Regions from separate parts of the Homo sapiens genome. Here region 2 is linked to region 1. Evidence: fine-mapped expression QTL. A gene starts in region 1. The other region holds a variant in brackets. All regions are shown on one strand. Distances are from middle to middle. Region 1 holds the start of USP49 (ubiquitin specific peptidase 49). Region 2 overlaps BYSL (bystin like).

Region 1 (8,332 bases):
TTGAACTAAAATAAAGATTAAATGTATCACTGGGTTACAAAACATAGTATTATTTGTAATATAAGATAATTACCAAATAAATAGTTGTAGGAATGTCTGAGTATAACCTTGGGCAAATCATTTAATCTCAAGGACCCTCTATTTCATCACCTGTAAAATGAGAATAGTAATAGTACCTACCTCACAGGATTGCCATTGAGGAGTAAACAAGTTACAATTTGCAGTGCTTACAGAAGTATCTGGCACAAAAGCATTATATGTGTGTTGGCTACTATTATTAAGTTTATGAAGAACTAAGGTCTTATAAATACAAAAGTACACAGGTATTTTTTACTCAAAAATTGAGAATGGGGCAAGAGGAAACAAACACATATATAGCATTAAACATGTGCTGGTTGGAGAGAAGGCAGACTCTCCTGATAGAGAAATTATTAAATGCTTGCAAAGATTATCTACAGAGGTTACCACATTACTGCTGAAGATTTGTTTTAAAAAATAGGATAAATTTTTATCTACCTGGAATGATTTAAGTGGGATATTGACTGGAGTTGCAGGATAAACTAGAGGTCCTTTCAAGGTCTCTTCCCATCCAAAGAATCTACGGTTAACCAGGAAAACATTTAATTATGTACAGCCTAATAAATCTAAAAATATAAACTTAAAAGCTTTTGCTTAGCAAATAAGATTATAACCAAAATAAAGTTAAATTGGGTAGAACTGTACTTGATGAACAAATGAAAATAAAGCTTAAATTTATCATTGGAGTCCTTATTGATAAATAGTATTATCTCAATTTTTAAAAATCCATTTTCAGTTTTAGAAATAGCGACTGAGAAATAACCATTGACAATGAGACTCAGTGGTTTAGCACACTAAGGCCGTTGCATACAGAAACAAAAGGCAGGACTCACTCTTTCCCTTGGCTGATCTTACAGTTTATATTTCCTTCTTTACCAATATCAAATAAGTCTATAATCACTTATATAAAGATATTGAGCATTAAACAATTACAATTACATTATAAACATGGCAATACCATACAGAGTACGTCCTACTACTAACGCCAGCCCAAACACATCTATAAAAAGAATATGCACACACATCTCACTGAAACAAGTGCCTCATATCAAAGTTATTCTTCATCTTGAAAGTCAACATTATCAAACTAATCCTTTTAAAATGTAGTGGCAAAAATAGTAATTTTTACCAAGATCCTCTGTTAAATTGCTAAATACATCTAGTAACCTTGAACACTTGCTTAATACAATCCAGGAAACAAACCATAAACTAAATACTATGCCACTAACACAGTAGCTGAATGCAGAAAGAGTTTTCTAAATTATACATTAACCATTGTTGCTCAAATCCACAAATCAAAATCTAATCTTTGTTAACTACTACAAAAGTCATAAACCTAATCTTTGTTATTTATACAAACACCAGCAAAAGTGTCAATCCAAAATTTACCCAACTTTGAAAAAAAAAGTATCTTTGTGCATCTGAGTGTACACAATGAAATAACCCCAAAGAAGATTCTCAACAATTGTTTGAATTTTTCCCTAAGTAAATCATATGCTATCCTTTGGCACCATCAAATGCAAAACAAATATTCATTCATATTCTTAGCTAAATGTAAAAGCTTCTGAAAAAAATCATTAAAACAAAATTCTAAGTAAGAATAACCAAATTTTGCCCCAAATTTCTTATCTTCCTTTTCATTTCTAAAGGTGTCTTAAAAATCAAAAGCTTCTAGAAAATTAGTATTAATCTGGCCTTCTTTATTCATAACCATAAAACACGAAAGGCAGTGGAGCTGTCCAAAGACCAAGCTTGCTGCAGTATTATCTTACAGAGATGTTTTTCCATCAAAATTACTCATAAATTTATTTGCCCTAAAAAATAAGTCTGCTACTCTAAAATCCTCCACTACTCTACAATTCTCCCTTTCTTTATGCCATTTTGTTAAATGGGTGAGTTACCAACTACAGCATGAAACGTCCCGCACAAAGCTAAAGGCAGCTCAGGAACTCAAAGCCCTCAGCTCTGATTTAATCTCTCCCCCAGTAAACTTCCTTGGTTGGTTATCTGCCTTTCTCTGAAATGATTTCTTAACATTCTCCAGCAACTGAAAACAATAAGCAGAAATCTGGTTGATTAATCAAAAGAAACAGATTCTCATCTTTCTCTATCCCAACAACAGTGCGTTCTCCATTGAAAATGAAAATGCTGTCCATAAAACACAGCCCAGCACTTGTCAGGTGCAACACTCCTACAACACTAAAACTATCACATCACACGAGTACACCCTAAATAAGCACACCCTTTCCCCGAATTATCACAACACTAGTGAAATGCAGAGGTTTTCAACACCCAGAGTTTATACTTTATCATCCATACAAGAAAAAAATCAAATCAAAATGAGTCTCATTTCTTCAAAGTGGACAGGAAAGTCAAATCAAAAGCAATGAAGGGTGGAAGCAGATTCAAGATTTCTTGAGAGAAAGAGGTTTCTGGAATTTCCTACTTTTAGGGACAAAAGGATTCACAGTTTCAACACACAGTTCTCTCCTCAACAAAGAATTCCTTTCCTGCACCCCCCACCTCTGCCCTTACTTTTTAGTCTTTACCCCTGTCTCTAGGTCCCCTTTCACTCACCATGGTTCCTCGTCTTCTGCACCAAAGGCTCTCTTACACTTGATCTTTCACTACAGCATTTCTGCCCTGACCCTTGCAGACCTTCTGGAGCAACTCCCCATAACACGCACATTCGATTCCCACCCCCCTGCAGTCTACCCCAGTTCTACATCCATCAGGACTCCCCCAGCTTCTCTTAGCCCCCTCTCTTCCCTTACTCCCCATCTCATCCTTTAAATTCTGGGGCCCATCTCTTCCTGCTCCTCTCACCATTTGCTTTTAGCCCTGTCTCTTTACCTCACTGTTTTCACCTTGGATCTTGCTGAACCTCTTCAATTAACGTAATTACCCAGTTATCCTTGTCCCAGATGGCCATCACTTCTTACACCCTAACTCTAGTCTCCTTTCAGCTCTTCTGGTCCCAGAATCGTCCTACAGACACCCATCTCTTATCTGTTTCCTTTCGCCCTTCCACCACACTCTTATTCCTGACTCCACCTGGTTCCAGTCCAGGTCTCATTTGCCCTCCCTCACTTTACAGAATTTACATCCATCGCCCACCCACTAACCCATTCCTTTCTCAGAACCTCGCCAGCAGTTCCCACCACACCGTTGGTCCCAGTCCTTCAGCTCATCTCGCTCCGCACTAGTTCACACCCTCGTCACGTCTGGCTCTTAATCACTCTCTCTTTCCTACTCCCAACTATTACCCCAGCTCTGCCCCTCCTTGTCTTCCACTTCCAACACTTACCCCGGTACCCCTCACCCCAACACCACCCGCTACGAAGATTTCCCCTTCAAACCCCTGCTCTTACACCTAACCCCAGGATCCCTTTCCCCAGCCCTAACCTCATTCCCTGCCCGGCTTCCTTAACGCCCACCCTGGCTTTTGCCTCCTTCCTATCTCCTTGGCTGGCTTTTTCTCACTCCTCCTCTCCCTGGCTTCTAACCCTTTCTCCCCTTAATCCTCCTCATCTCATTCTCAACCCGGTTCCCCTCATCGCCTCCAAGCCTTCCTTTCCCTCTCCCTTCAACGCTTTTGCCCCAACCCAGCCGTCGCCCACCCCGCCAAAATAAGGCGCCCGCGCGCCCCGACTCCCGGCTCTCGCCTCCCGCCGCCCCCGCCCCGGGCGCCCCCAGCCCGCCGGCGCCGCGGTCCCGCCCCCTGCCGCCGCTCCTCCCGCCCGCGAGGCGCGCGCTGCCTTTGTCGCCCCTCACCCGGTGTGTGAGGATTTTGCTTCTTTAAAGGGGAGGGCTAGTGAGCCGGAGACTCCTATCCCCGCCTCCGAGTCTTAGAATGGGCTCCCTGGCCGTCGCGGCCTCCCCGGCCCCCGTTCCCCCTACCCCCTGGAGCTACCCACTTTGCTGCCTCCCCACCTCCTCCGTCCCCTCCCCCGGCCCCCTCTATTTACCGCCATCATCAGCACGCGCGAGCTGTCACCAGGGCGCGAGACAACCGAACACGGCCCCGCCCCCTGCCCGTCTATTGGCCCGCCCGCTGGAGCCCCGCCCCTCAGGCCCTGCATTGCGCCAACGGCGCAGCGCTGGGCCGCGACCCCGGCACCGGCACCCGTTCCGAGGGTTCGCGCCGCAGGCGCAAAGTTTAGGGTCAGCCACAAACGCGCGGCCGCTTTGAGCCTGGCGTAAGGGGCGGCGGCGTAGGGGGACGTTGTGAATAGCTGGTCGAAGTTTGGTTGAAGCACAGGAGGGTAAATAAGAAGGTTTCCAGACAAAGAGACTCTTAAAGGTACAGACTCTTATGTCTGTCCCTCCTCCTTAAAGGGCCAGAGACGCTCCCGAGCCCATCTCCGCCCCCTTCTTCCCGGGGAACTGTAAAGGTATTTTACATGAGTTTCCCATACTCTTTTCGGTTCACCTTTAACACCTCTCCCCACTGCGAAGGACAAAGGCTTTCTCACTATCCCGTCCGTATGTTTTGTTTTATTCTGTTAAAAGACGTTATTTCTGTGTTGTTCCTAAAGCAGCAGCCCTCAAACCGTGGGGTTTCCGGAGGCAGCGTTTGCAAAAGTTACTATTGGCTCCCAGGCGGGTGAGCACGTGTCTGGCTTTTGCCACAGATGACCCAAGAGAGATTCAGCTGTTTTATGGAAATCCCCCACAAGTTAGAGGATCGCTGCCGGAACTGAAGAAGTTCAGCAGATTGTAAGGCTTGGGAAATAAACCAGACTGACTTGGTAGTGGTCCATTGGGAAACAGAACAGCACCTAAGCTACAAAAGGCTTAGGTTAAGCAGTCTCCTAGGTGCACTGTCTTGAAACTACTTGCGGGGTGGTAGTGGGGGGAGGGGATGGGAGTCTCCCAAAATAAGATCAACAATTTCAACACCCAACACATAGCTAAGGCAGATAAAGACTTACATTTAAATATAAGGACAAGTAAAAGAAACAGACATTAGCTATAGTAGTGGCTCAAGTTACACACCTGTAAACAGGAGAACTAGGTAAGCACAAAAAAAAAAAAAAGAACACCACACACAATAGGAAGGGGGAAACTACAATGCCTGGACCAAGCGCTGTGTAGGCAATTTATTAACAACTTGCACTTTTAAAAGAGGTTTGATAGAAGGAGAGGAAGTGGAGTGTTTCAATTTGGTTTGGTCGGGATTTATCATGAGGTTCAAGGCCTCAGAGTTAGATTCAGAATTTAGCTCTCCCTTTGTCGTCCATCACAGTTAACATAATTCTTTTTAAGGAATTCTTAACATTATAACTCTAATTATATGTCTTATTCCCTTACTCAACAATCCCCAAGAAAATTCTTGGAGAAGAAAGATTGTTACTTATTCAATGTTAGTTCCATAACAAGGTGCTTTTGCTGAGTGAAGAATTTGGGAGCCACTTAAAACTTCCAATGGAAGGGATGCTCCCAGAATAGCAATACAGGAGGAAAAGTTTCTCAGTGATGTGAGCATGTATTAGATCAGTGTTCTCAAAAATGTGGCCTGGAGGCCGGGCACGGTGGCTCACGCCTGTAATCCCAGCACTTTGGGAGGCCAAGGCAGGTGGATCATGAGGTCAGGAGATCAAGACCAGCCTGGCCAACATGGTGAAACTCCGTCTCTACTAAAAATACAAAAATTATCCGGACGTGGTGGCGTGTGCCTGTAATCCCAGCTACTCAGGAGGCTGAGGCAGGAGAATTGCTTGAACCAGGGAGTTGGAGGTTGCAGTGAGCTGAGATCGTGCCACAGCACTCCAGCCTGGCAACGGAGTGAGACTCCATCTCAAAAAAAAAAAAAAAAAAAAAAAAGTGTCGCCTGGAAAGGCCTAGGGATCTCTGAGACCCTTTGGGCTGGGGGGATAGTGGGGTGCCTGAGATCAAAACGATTTTCCTAATAATACTGAGACATATCTGCATTGTCACTGTGATGATATTTGCACAATGATACAAAAGTAGCAATGGGTAAAACTGCTGCCTTAGCACAAATCAAGGCAACTGCACCAAGTTGTGCTAGAGGTCAAGGTATTCTTCACTGCTACAGTAAAAAAACACCTGTTTCAGGCCGGATGGGTGCAGTGGCTCACACCTGTAATCCCAACACTTTGGGAGGCCAAGGCAGGTGGATCACTTGAGGTCAGGAATTCGAGACCAGCCTGGCCAACATGGTGAAACCCCTCTCTCTACTAAAAATACAGAAATTAGCTGGGCGTGGTGGCACGCACCTGTAATCCCAGCTACTCGGGAAGCTGAGGCAGGAGAATCACTTGAACCTGGGAGGCAGAGGTTTCAGTGAGCCGAGATCGCACCACTGCACTCCAGCCTAGGCAACAGAGTGCGACACTGTCTCAAAAAAAAAAAAAAAAAAAACCACCTGTTTCATTTAAGAGGTCTTTGATGAAGACAATAAAAATTGTTTTATTTAAGTACACGTTTATGTGATTAAATGCATGTATGTATGCATCAAGCACTTTTAAGTACAACATTTGTCTTGAGGAAAAGCACTCTTGCAATTTGAGTTTGGAGCTGAATTAATAGCTTTCTTCATGGAACACCGTTTTTATTTGAAAGAACAGCTAACAGACTAGTTGTTCACTGGATATTTGGCAGACATGTTCTTAAAAATAAAGTAGAGCCTGATAGCATTGTCGGTTATGATAAAACTCAAGCCTTTATTTTTATTTTTGGAGACGGAGTCTCACTCTGTTACCCAGGCTGGAGTGGAGTGGCGTGATCTCAGCTCACTGCAACCTCTGCCTCCCAGGTTCAAGCAATTCTCCTGCCTCAGCCTCCTGAGTAGCTGGCACCACAGGCACACGCCACTAACGCCCAGCTAATTTTTTGTATTTTAGTAGAGACAGGGTTTCGCCATGTTGCCCAGGCTGGTCTTGAACTCCTGAGCTCAGGCAGTCTGCCCGCCTCAGCTTCCCAAAGTGCTAGGATTACAGGCGTGAGCCACCGCACCCGGCCTGATAAAACTCAAGCATTTAAGTCAAACAGAATTTCTAACAACTGACTTGTATCTCCCAATGTAAGTTTGATAGCTTCCCATGACTTTTTCTAATAAGACTGGTAGTGGGCCAGGCACGGTGGCTCATGCCTGTAATCCCAACACTTTGGGAGGTCAAGGTGGGCAAATCATTTCAGGCCAGGAGTTCGAGACCAGTCTGGCCAACATGGCGAAACCCCATCTCTACTAAAAATAAAAAAATTAGCTGGGCATGGTGGCGCATGCCTGTAATACCAGCTACTCAGGAGGCTGAGACACAAGAATTGCTTGAACCAGGGAGGCAGAGGTTGCAGTGAGCCGAGATCATGGCACTGCCCTCCAGCCTGGGCAACAGAGCAAGACTCTGTCTCACAAAACTAAAATAAGTCCGGGCACGGTGGCTCATGCCTGTAATCCTGGCACTTTGGGAGGCCGAGGTGAGCGGATTGCCTGAGCTCAGGAGTTCAAGACCAGCCTGCGCAACACAGTGAAACCCCATCTCTACTCAAAATACAAAAAAAATTAGCTGGGTATGGCGGCATGTGCCTTAGTCCCAGCTACCCGGGAGGCTGAGGCAGGAGAATTGCTTGAACCTGGGAGGCGGAGCTTGCAGTGAGCCGAGATGGTGCCACTGCACTCCAGCCTGGGCGACAGAACGAGACTCCATCTCAAAAAATAAAATAAAATAAAATAAAAATAAAAATAAATAAATATGATTTTTTGATACTGTATAATGTGTCAACATTTAGGAGATGTGCAGTGTTTTCCAAATGACCAATGCATGACACTACAAAATCACACATTAGTAAAAGATCCATTCAAAGTGCAAAATAAGGCCAGGTGCAGTGGCTCACGCCTGTAATCCTGGCACTTTGAAAGGCTGAGGCAGGTGGATCACTTGAGCCCAGGAGTTCGAGACTAGCCTGGGCAATATAGCGAGACCCCCATCCCTAAAAAGAAAAAAAAAAAGTGCAAAATAAACCAATAAATATTAATGGAATATAAAAAGTTCACTAATATACTTTGAGGTTCCACATTGCAACTAACCTTTAGCAGAGTTTTGATAGCATCAAAGAATATCCACAATTATCTGAAAAAGTTATGAATATATTTCTCCCTTTTTCCAAATACACATCTGTGGGAGGCTGAATTTTCTTCATATTCTTCAACCAAAATAACATTGAAACAGACTGAATGCAAAAGCAGATATGAGTATTTCACAGTCTTCTATTATGCCAGACATTCAAAAGA
Region 2 (8,332 bases), 31 kb after region 1:
GCATCTCCAATTTGAAATCTAACAGACAGCTCAAATTTAACATGTACAAAACAGAAATCCTGACCTTCCCTCCAAACCTGCTTCTCTCACCATTGCCTTCCCTGTCTCAGTTAGTAGCATATTCTTTCATTTGCTCGAGATAAACTTTAGACTCCTCTCTCTCCCTGCCCCCACCATCTCCTCTCTCTGTCTCTCCCTCCCCACATCTGATCTGTAAGGAAATTCTGATGACTTTGCCTTCAAAGTGTATCCAAAATGAGACCACTTTTCACCGCTTTGGAACACCATCCTGTCGTAGCCACCACAGTCTCTCACCTGGATTATCACAGTAGCCTCCTCGTTAGTATCTCATATTCTCCGTTTTTTCTTTTTTTCTTTTTTTTTTGAGACAGAGTCTCTCTCTCTCTCTGTCACCCAGGATAGAGTGCGGTGGCACAATCATAGCTAACTGCAGCCTCAATCTCCTGGGCTCCAGTCGTCTTTCCACCTCAGCCTCCCACGTAGCTGGGACCACAGGTGTGTGCCACCATGTCCAACTAATTCTTTTTTTTTTTTTTTGAGCCTGTCGCCCAGGCTGTAGTGCAGTGGCGCAATCTTGGCTCACTGCAACCTCTGCCACCTAGGTCCAAGCAATTCTTCTGCCTCAGCCTTCTGAGTAGCTGAGATTACAGGCGTGAGCCATCACATCCAGTTAATTTTTGTATTTTCAGTAGAGATGGGGTTTCACCATGTTGGCCAGACTGGTCTTGAACTCCTGACTTCAGGTCATCGTCCACCTCTGCCTCCCAAAATGCTGGGATTACAGGCGTGAGCCACCGCACCTGGCCGCTAATTATTTAATTATTTGTAGAGATGAGGTCTCACAGTGGTGCCCAGTTTGGTCTCAAACTCCTGGGCTCAAACGACCCTCCCTGCCTTGGCCTCCCAAAGTGCTGGGATTACAGGTGTGAGCTACTGCACCCTGCCGTGTCTCATACTCTCTACAAAGTACTCACAGGTGGGGGATTACAATGGTCTACAATGCACTATATGATCTGCCTCCTTTGCCAGTCTGACCTCTTCTACTGCTTTCCTCTTTGCCCATTCCACTCCACCTATTTAGGCTTCATTGTGCCTTAAACGTGGGAAATTAGGGGGTTTGGCCTGGTTGTTCCTTCTCTCTGGGATAGTTTGTTCTCATACACTTGTAGGGTTACTTTCTCAGAGAGGCCTATCCACTCCATTTAAGATTGCAGCACTCTACTCCATCTCCATACTCCCAGCATTTCTGCCCTATCTTTTTTTCATAGTACTTATCTTTTTTTTTTTTTTGAGACAGAGTCTCGCTCCGTCACCCAGGCTGAGTGCAATACCACGATCTCGGCTCACTGCAACCTCCACCTCCCGGGTTCAAGCGATTCTCCTGCCTCAGCCTCCCAAGTAGCTGGGATTACAGGCGCCCGCCACCACACCCAGCTAATTTTTTTTTTTTTTGTATTTTTAGTAGAGTTGGGGATTTCGCTATGTTGGCCAGCCTGGTCTCAAACTCCTGACCTCAGGTGATCCACCCGCCTCGGCCTCCCGAAGTGCTGGGATTACAGGCATGAGCCACTGCACCCAGCCCATAGTACTTATCTTTTAACCCAATATATTTATATGTTTATTTATGTCTGTCTCTTCCATTTAGACAGGATTGGGTGCGTTCAGGGTGGTATGGTCGTAGACTATCTCCTCCAATTAGAATGTAAGCTGTATAGAACAAAGTCTTTTGGTTTCGGTTGTTCGTGGATATATTGCCAGCACCCCGAACAGTGCCTCACATATAGTAGGTGCTTGGTGTTTGCTGAATGACTGGGTTAATCGGTAATGAATGATGGTCAGGTAGGTGGGAGCCAAGCCTACAAAAGATTTTAAAACCATCCTAACAGCAGTGGGAAGAATGGGAAGCTACTGGAGAATTTTAAGGACAGGGCTGATCAAATCAAATATGTGTTTCTGGAAGGTGACCGTCTGCAGAGTGGAAAATGAGTTGGAGGGAAGCAAGGTCAGAAACATAGAGACCAGTGGGCGACTGTTGAATAAATCCAGGCAAGAGATGATGCTGATCTAGGCTTAGATGGGGCTGTGAAGCATGTGAGAGACAGTCTATGAGGTAAAATTGAATATGATTTAGTAATTGATTGGGTGTTGAGGGTGAGGGCAGGGGATGAGGCAAGAGTACCTCCCAGGCTTAGCATTGGGTGGACGATGGTGCCGTTTACTGAGCTGTGGATGGTTAGCAGTGTAGACCTAGGAGGGAAAGAAAATTAGTTTAGTTGATAACGGGTGAGATTTGAGGTGCCTGTGAGTCATCCAAGAGCAGCTTACAGGAGACACCTGGAGTTAGGGTCTGGCACTAAGGAGAACCACCTACAAAGTACAAATTTGGGGGACCGTTGGAACGTGGAGACAAAATGTCTGTTCCCCCTTATTTAGTGTTTATCACACACTGCCTTTGTTGTTAATGACCTATTGATACGTAGCATTATAGCTCCCCACTTGGATTATTAGACCCCTTTCCAGATGCCCAGACATGTAGCCTTCCAAAAACAGAAGTTATTTAAATGGACTAACTTCATTTTTTTTTTTTTTTTTAAGACGGAGTCTCGCTCTGTCGCCCAGGCTGGAGTGCAGTGGCACGATCTTGGCTCACTGCAAGCTCCGCCTCCCGGGTTCACACCATTCTCCTGCCTCAGCCTCCCGAGTAGCTGGGACTACAGGCGCCCGCCACCACACCCGGCTAATTTTTTGTATTTTTAGTAGAGACGGGGTTTCACCGTGTTAGCCAGGATGGTCTCGGTCTCCTGACCTCGTGATCCGCCCGCCTTGGCCTCTCTAAGTGCTGGGATTACAGGCGTGAGCCACCGCGCCCGGCCTATTTATTTTTATTTATTTATTTATTTATTTTTTTGAGACAGAGTTTTGCTGTTGTTGCCCAGGCTGGAGTGCAGTGGCGCGATCTCGGCTCACCTCACCTCAACCTCCACCTCCCGGGTTCAAGCGATTCTCATGCCTCAGCCTTCCCAAGTAGCTGGGATTATAGGCATGCGCCACCAAGCCCGGCTAATTTTGTATTTTTAGTAGAGACGGGGCTTCTCCCTGTTAGTCAGGCTGGTCTCGAACTCCCAATCTCATGATCCACCCGCCTTGGTCTCCCAAAATGGTGGGATTACAGGCGTGAGCCACCACGCCCAGCCAACTTCATGTATTTAAATGGACTGGTGGATTGAAATCTGAACTCTACTGCCTGAATTTAAAGGCCCTCCAGTCTGGCTTCACCTTTCCCACGTACCTAGCATTATTTCTTGCTATTGCCTAGGAGACTCTTATATCCAAGCCTTATTTTCTCTGCGTCTGGAACACACTCCTTCTGCTCCCAAACTGCCCATCCAGCTCCTAACTGTCCTCACCACTCATCCTTTAAGTGCATATGTTGTCTCTACTACTCATTGTGGCATATAATCAAACCCGAATATGTGTAGAATAGTGGTGAAGAATGCAGTCTAGACCCAGACTACCTGTCTTGGGCAAATTACCCAACTTCTCAGTGCTTCAATGTCCTCATTTGAAACTGGGTATAGTAATAGTATCCACTTCTTGGGTTTATTCTTATTTATTTATTTATTTGCCATTGTTCCATAAGAAGGTTTATTTTATTTTTTTTAATTTTATATATATTTTTTGAGACGGAGTCTCGCTTTGTCACCAGGCTGGAGTGCAGTGGCGTGACCTTGGCTCACTGCAACCTCCACCTCCTGGGTTCAAGTGATTCTCCTGCCTCAGCCTTCCAAATAGCTGGGACTACAGGCGCCCACCACCACGCCCAGCTAATTTTTGTATTTTTAGTAGAGATGGGGTTTCACCATGTTGAC[C/T]AGGGTGGTTTCGATCTCTTGACCTCGTGATCTGCCCGCCTCGGCCTCCCAAAGTGCTGGGATTACAGGCGTGAGCCACCGTGCCCGGCCACTTCTTGGGTTTATAAGGATTAAACAGTTAACATGGGTATAGTGTTTAGAAGTTCCTTCTACAGGCCGGGAACAGTGGCTCACGCCCTGTAATCCCAGCATTTTGGGAGGCCAAGGCGGGCGGATCACGAGGTCAAGAGATCGAGACCATTCTGGTCAACATGGTGAAACCCCAACTCTACTAAAAATACAAAAAATTAGCCGGGCTGGTGGCTTATGCCTGTAGTCCCAGCTGCTTGGGAGGCTGAGGCAGGAGAATGGCATGAACCCGGGAGGCGGAGCTTGCAGTGAGCTGAGATCCAGCCACTGCACTCCAGTGTGGGTGACAGAGCAAGACTCCATTTCAAAAAAAAAAAAAAAAGTTCCTTCTACATAACTGAGTATGGTATGTTAACTATTATTTATGGCCATTGCTTTTCTTATTGTTTCCTGTATATACATTTTGTTTCTCAAGCATGATTGCAAGCCCCTGGGGACAGGGAGCTAATGCATTTGTTTCACTGCACATACCTGCGTCTATCACAACCACATGTGAGGCCTGTACTACATAATGGCTAAAGTTAAACTGACGAAATCCCTCAGCTACCTTTTGCTGTGCTCATCCATTTAGTCTCCCCTCTTCTAGGTCCAAGAATGCCTCAGGATGGATCAGATGACGAGGACGAGGAGTGGCCCACCCTGGAGAAGGCTGCCACAATGACAGCAGCGGGCCATCATGCAGAGGTGGTTGTGGACCCTGAGGATGAGCGTGCCATAGAGATGTTCATGAACAAGAACCCTCCTGCCAGGTAGGCCTGGGGATTTGGGATAATGAGTCCTTGTAGAAAGTTCCCACAGGAAAACAAGTTCCCTGGCAGACTTATGATTCCCTACCTTTGGAAAGGGCCCTGGAGTTGCTAGCTGTAGGGGACCACCTTGACAAAACTGGCCCATCCTCAAAGGACCACTGTGAGTAGGAATGACCCAGCCTCAAAAAACATTGTGTCCTTATGTCCATTTGTTGTACAACTGCCCAGTTGCCAGGGAAACAGTTCCAGGCCCCTTTTACACCTCTGGGGAGAGCCATCCTATTGCATTTGGTTTTGGTATTCTTAGTTTTTTTAGCGGTAAGCTCAACTTCCTTGGACAAGTCTTCATATCCTAAGCTTCATTTAAGCCAAGGTTTTTCAACCTCAGCATTATTGACATTTTGGGCTGGGTAATTTTGTGTGTGTGTGGAGGCTGTCCTGTGCAGTGTAGGAGGTTTAGTAGATATCTCTGATCTCTACTTCTAGACTCCAGTAGCAACCTTCCCCCAGTTGTGAAAACCAAAAATGACATCAGACATTGCCAAATGTCCTCTGGGAGGCAAGACTGCCCCTAGTCAGGACCACTAATTTATTCCCATCTATAATAAATGCTAGCTCCAAAACATGCAGGCATTTAGACTGCCTGTGGTCAAACTCCTGAGCCCATAAATTTTGGCCCTTGGGAGTGGAGTCTAGGATAAGGGTCCTCAACCAGTTCATTCTGACCCTGTGATATTAACATAATGGTGTCCCTGATACTTTAGGCTGTTTTGGGCTAATGCATCTCATTGCTAATCATACTATAAAAGGACAGGGAGGCTGATAAATTCTGTGGCAGCTTATTTGAAAATGCAGAATGAAGAAATGAAAATGAGCCCCTCTCCCAGATTGATGCCTAACAGTTGAAATATATGTCATAAAGTATGTACTTGGGCTTGTCCCCCCAGAGAGCCTCTCAGGTTCTCACTCAGCACCTCATAACTCCTACTTCACTGATAATGCTGACCAATTTAGCAGAATGCTTTTCCAGCTTGTAGTAAATAGAGTAGACAAGCTCCTTGAAGTAATCAGAACTCCTGGCAGTCGTAAGAAATGATAGCTGGCATCTTCAGAAAGCAAGCCTAGATCCACATGAATTCAACAATCAGAGGCCATTTAGTTTGGGGGCACATTATAAGGTACTATAAAGCACCTTAACTCAAGACTTCCAAAAACCTGAGTTTGACTCTTACCCCCACCTGACAGCTGTGAGGCCTTGGGTGAGTTATTAACCTGAGGCCCAGTTCCCATGTCTGCATAAGTTTCCGTGTCCTATAAGTGTTGCGCTGACTCTAGGACTGAAAAGTCCCAAACTCAGTGCCTGGCATTGAGTAGGACCTCAGAAAAGAGGAGCAGTTTGTTTTTTGTTTTGTTTTGTGACAGGATCTCACTCTGTCACCCACGCTGGAGGGCAGTGGCATGATCTCAGCTCACTGCAACCTCAGCCTCTCGAGTAGCTGGGATTACAGGCACGTACCACCACGCCTGGCTAATTTTTGTTTTATTAGTAGAGACAGGGTTTCACCATGTTGGCCAGGCTGGTCTCAAACTCCTGACCTCACGTGATCCACCTCCCTCAGCCTCCCAAAGTACTGGGATTACAAGCGTGAGCCACTGCGCCCAACTGAGAAGCAGCTTTAAATACATTTCAGTCTGGGCATGGTGGCCCAGACCTGTAATCTTAGCACTTTGGGACGCCAAGGCAGGAGCCCAGGAGTGTGAGACCAGCCTGGGCAACATGGGGAGACCCCATCTCTACAGAAGAATAAAAAACTAGCTGGGCCTTGTACTATGTTCCTGTGGTCCCAGCTACTCGAGAGACTGAGGCGGGAAGATCGCTTGAGCCAGAGAGATAGAGGCTGCAGTGAGCCATGATGGTGCCACTGCATGCCAACCTGGGCAACAGAGGTAGACTCTCTCTCAAAAAAAATAAATAAATACACTTCAGCAGCCTCTGAAGATGCTAGTATTATATGACAGCTCAAGGCGATGGTAATTCTGAATCATTAAGATAAGATTATGTTTGATACACCCAACAATACTGTTTAAGGAGGCTGAAAAGAATATAATCAGTCTTAGAAATATTTCCATAGATAACGCTTACTGTGTACTGACCATTCCAAGTAATGAACAGACATTAACTTATTTAATCCTTCCATTAATCTTTTAAGGTGGGTACCGTTATTATCCCTATTTTACAAATGAGGAAACAGAGGCATAGAGAGGTAAAGTAACATGCCCAAGATCATACCAGGGAGTGGGTGAGCCAGGATTTGAACCTGGGCAGACTGACTTCAGAGTTGAGGTTCATAATAACCTCCGTACAACTGCTAGCTTTGTCCTAAATGGAATGACTTTCAGTTCCTTTGCACCCTGCAGTGATTCTGTCTGTGGTGGATGAATGGGCACAGAGAGAGAACTCTAAGCTGCATATCCCAGCAGGATCGCAGTATGGCGGTGCTCACAGGGGACTGTGGGGAGTCTGGAGCTTCCTGGACAGTGACCACAGTGCTCCTTGCCCCCTCTCTCCCCTCCTCTTGGCACTTCCCCTCTTAGGCGCACCCTGGCTGACATCATCATGGAGAAGCTGACTGAGAAGCAGACAGAGGTTGAGACAGTCATGTCAGAGGTGTCGGGCTTCCCTATGCCCCAGCTGGACCCCCGGGTCCTAGAAGTGTACAGGGGGGTCCGGGAGGTAAGAGCTGAGAGGGGAGCCATGGTGGAAGACCCCTTTGGGGGCTGTGGGCTCCTGCCACAGGCTTTTTTGCCTTTTGCCTGCATCACATACTAAAGAAGTCATGGGAGTAGAAAACAGACCTAAGAGGCAGAGTGTGTGGGTTCAGATTCCTGCTCTGCCTGTAAATGACTTGGCATCCTTGGGTCGGTTACTGGAACTCTCACTGGTCATCTGTAAAATGAGCATAATAATGGCACCTCCTTATAGGTTATTGTGGGGATGCAATGAGTTAATATATTAAAAGCACCCAGACAAGTTCCTAGCCCACAGCAAGCTTGCCATATGTGGATGACGATGATTGTTTTACCTCCCTCATCCCTAGGTATTATCTAAGTACCGCAGTGGAAAACTGCCCAAGGCATTTAAGATCATCCCTGCACTCTCCAACTGGGAGCAAATCCTCTACGTCACAGAGCCGGAGGCCTGGACTGCAGCTGCCATGTACCAGGCCACCAGGTAGAGTAGCTGGGGGTTCGGGGGCCTTGGGTTTATAGGTGCAGGCTGAGTTTGGGACGGACAGGCTTTCCTTGCCTCTGGCCCCAGGGCATTTGAGCTTTGCCCCAGGGCCCTCTCTGTGCTACTTTATAGCATCATTTTTCTAGCTTTTCCTGTGTCATTTTTTGGGGCCAAGACCCAGTTAGCCAGTTAGGAACCCTCCGTGATGAATTTCTAGGGGAGAGGCTTTTATAGCTACTGGGATACAACCCTCTGTGATGAATTTCTAGGGGAGAGGCTTTTATAGCCACTGGGATACAACCCTGTAGCAGGACCCTCAGAAGTCTGTGACT

The links. PIP is the estimated chance that this variant, and not a neighbour inherited with it, causes the effect. A credible set is the group of variants that fine-mapping cannot tell apart.
Region 2: its variant is the best candidate, but not a certain one, in a credible set for the expression of USP49 in thyroid (GTEx, PIP 0.59).

What each region holds. Positions count from the first base shown.
Region 1 is chr6:41,891,278-41,899,609 of GRCh38, forward strand. USP49 (ubiquitin specific peptidase 49) reads right to left here and starts at 4,098. Exons shown (of 8, transcript NM_001286554.2): 1 at 4,047-4,098; 2 at 517-598. RefSeq lists enhancers at 2,857-3,371, 4,306-4,495 and silencers at 3,936-4,175, 3,964-4,256.
Region 2 is chr6:41,922,769-41,931,100 of GRCh38, forward strand. BYSL (bystin like) reads left to right here. Exons shown (of 7, transcript NM_004053.4): 2 at 4,606-4,768; 3 at 7,364-7,502; 4 at 7,867-8,000. Among named protein-coding and RNA genes, the nearest start is that of BYSL, 5.4 kb to the left of the region's middle. RefSeq lists an enhancer at 2,492-2,992. The variant C/T (reference allele first, on the strand shown) is at 3,891.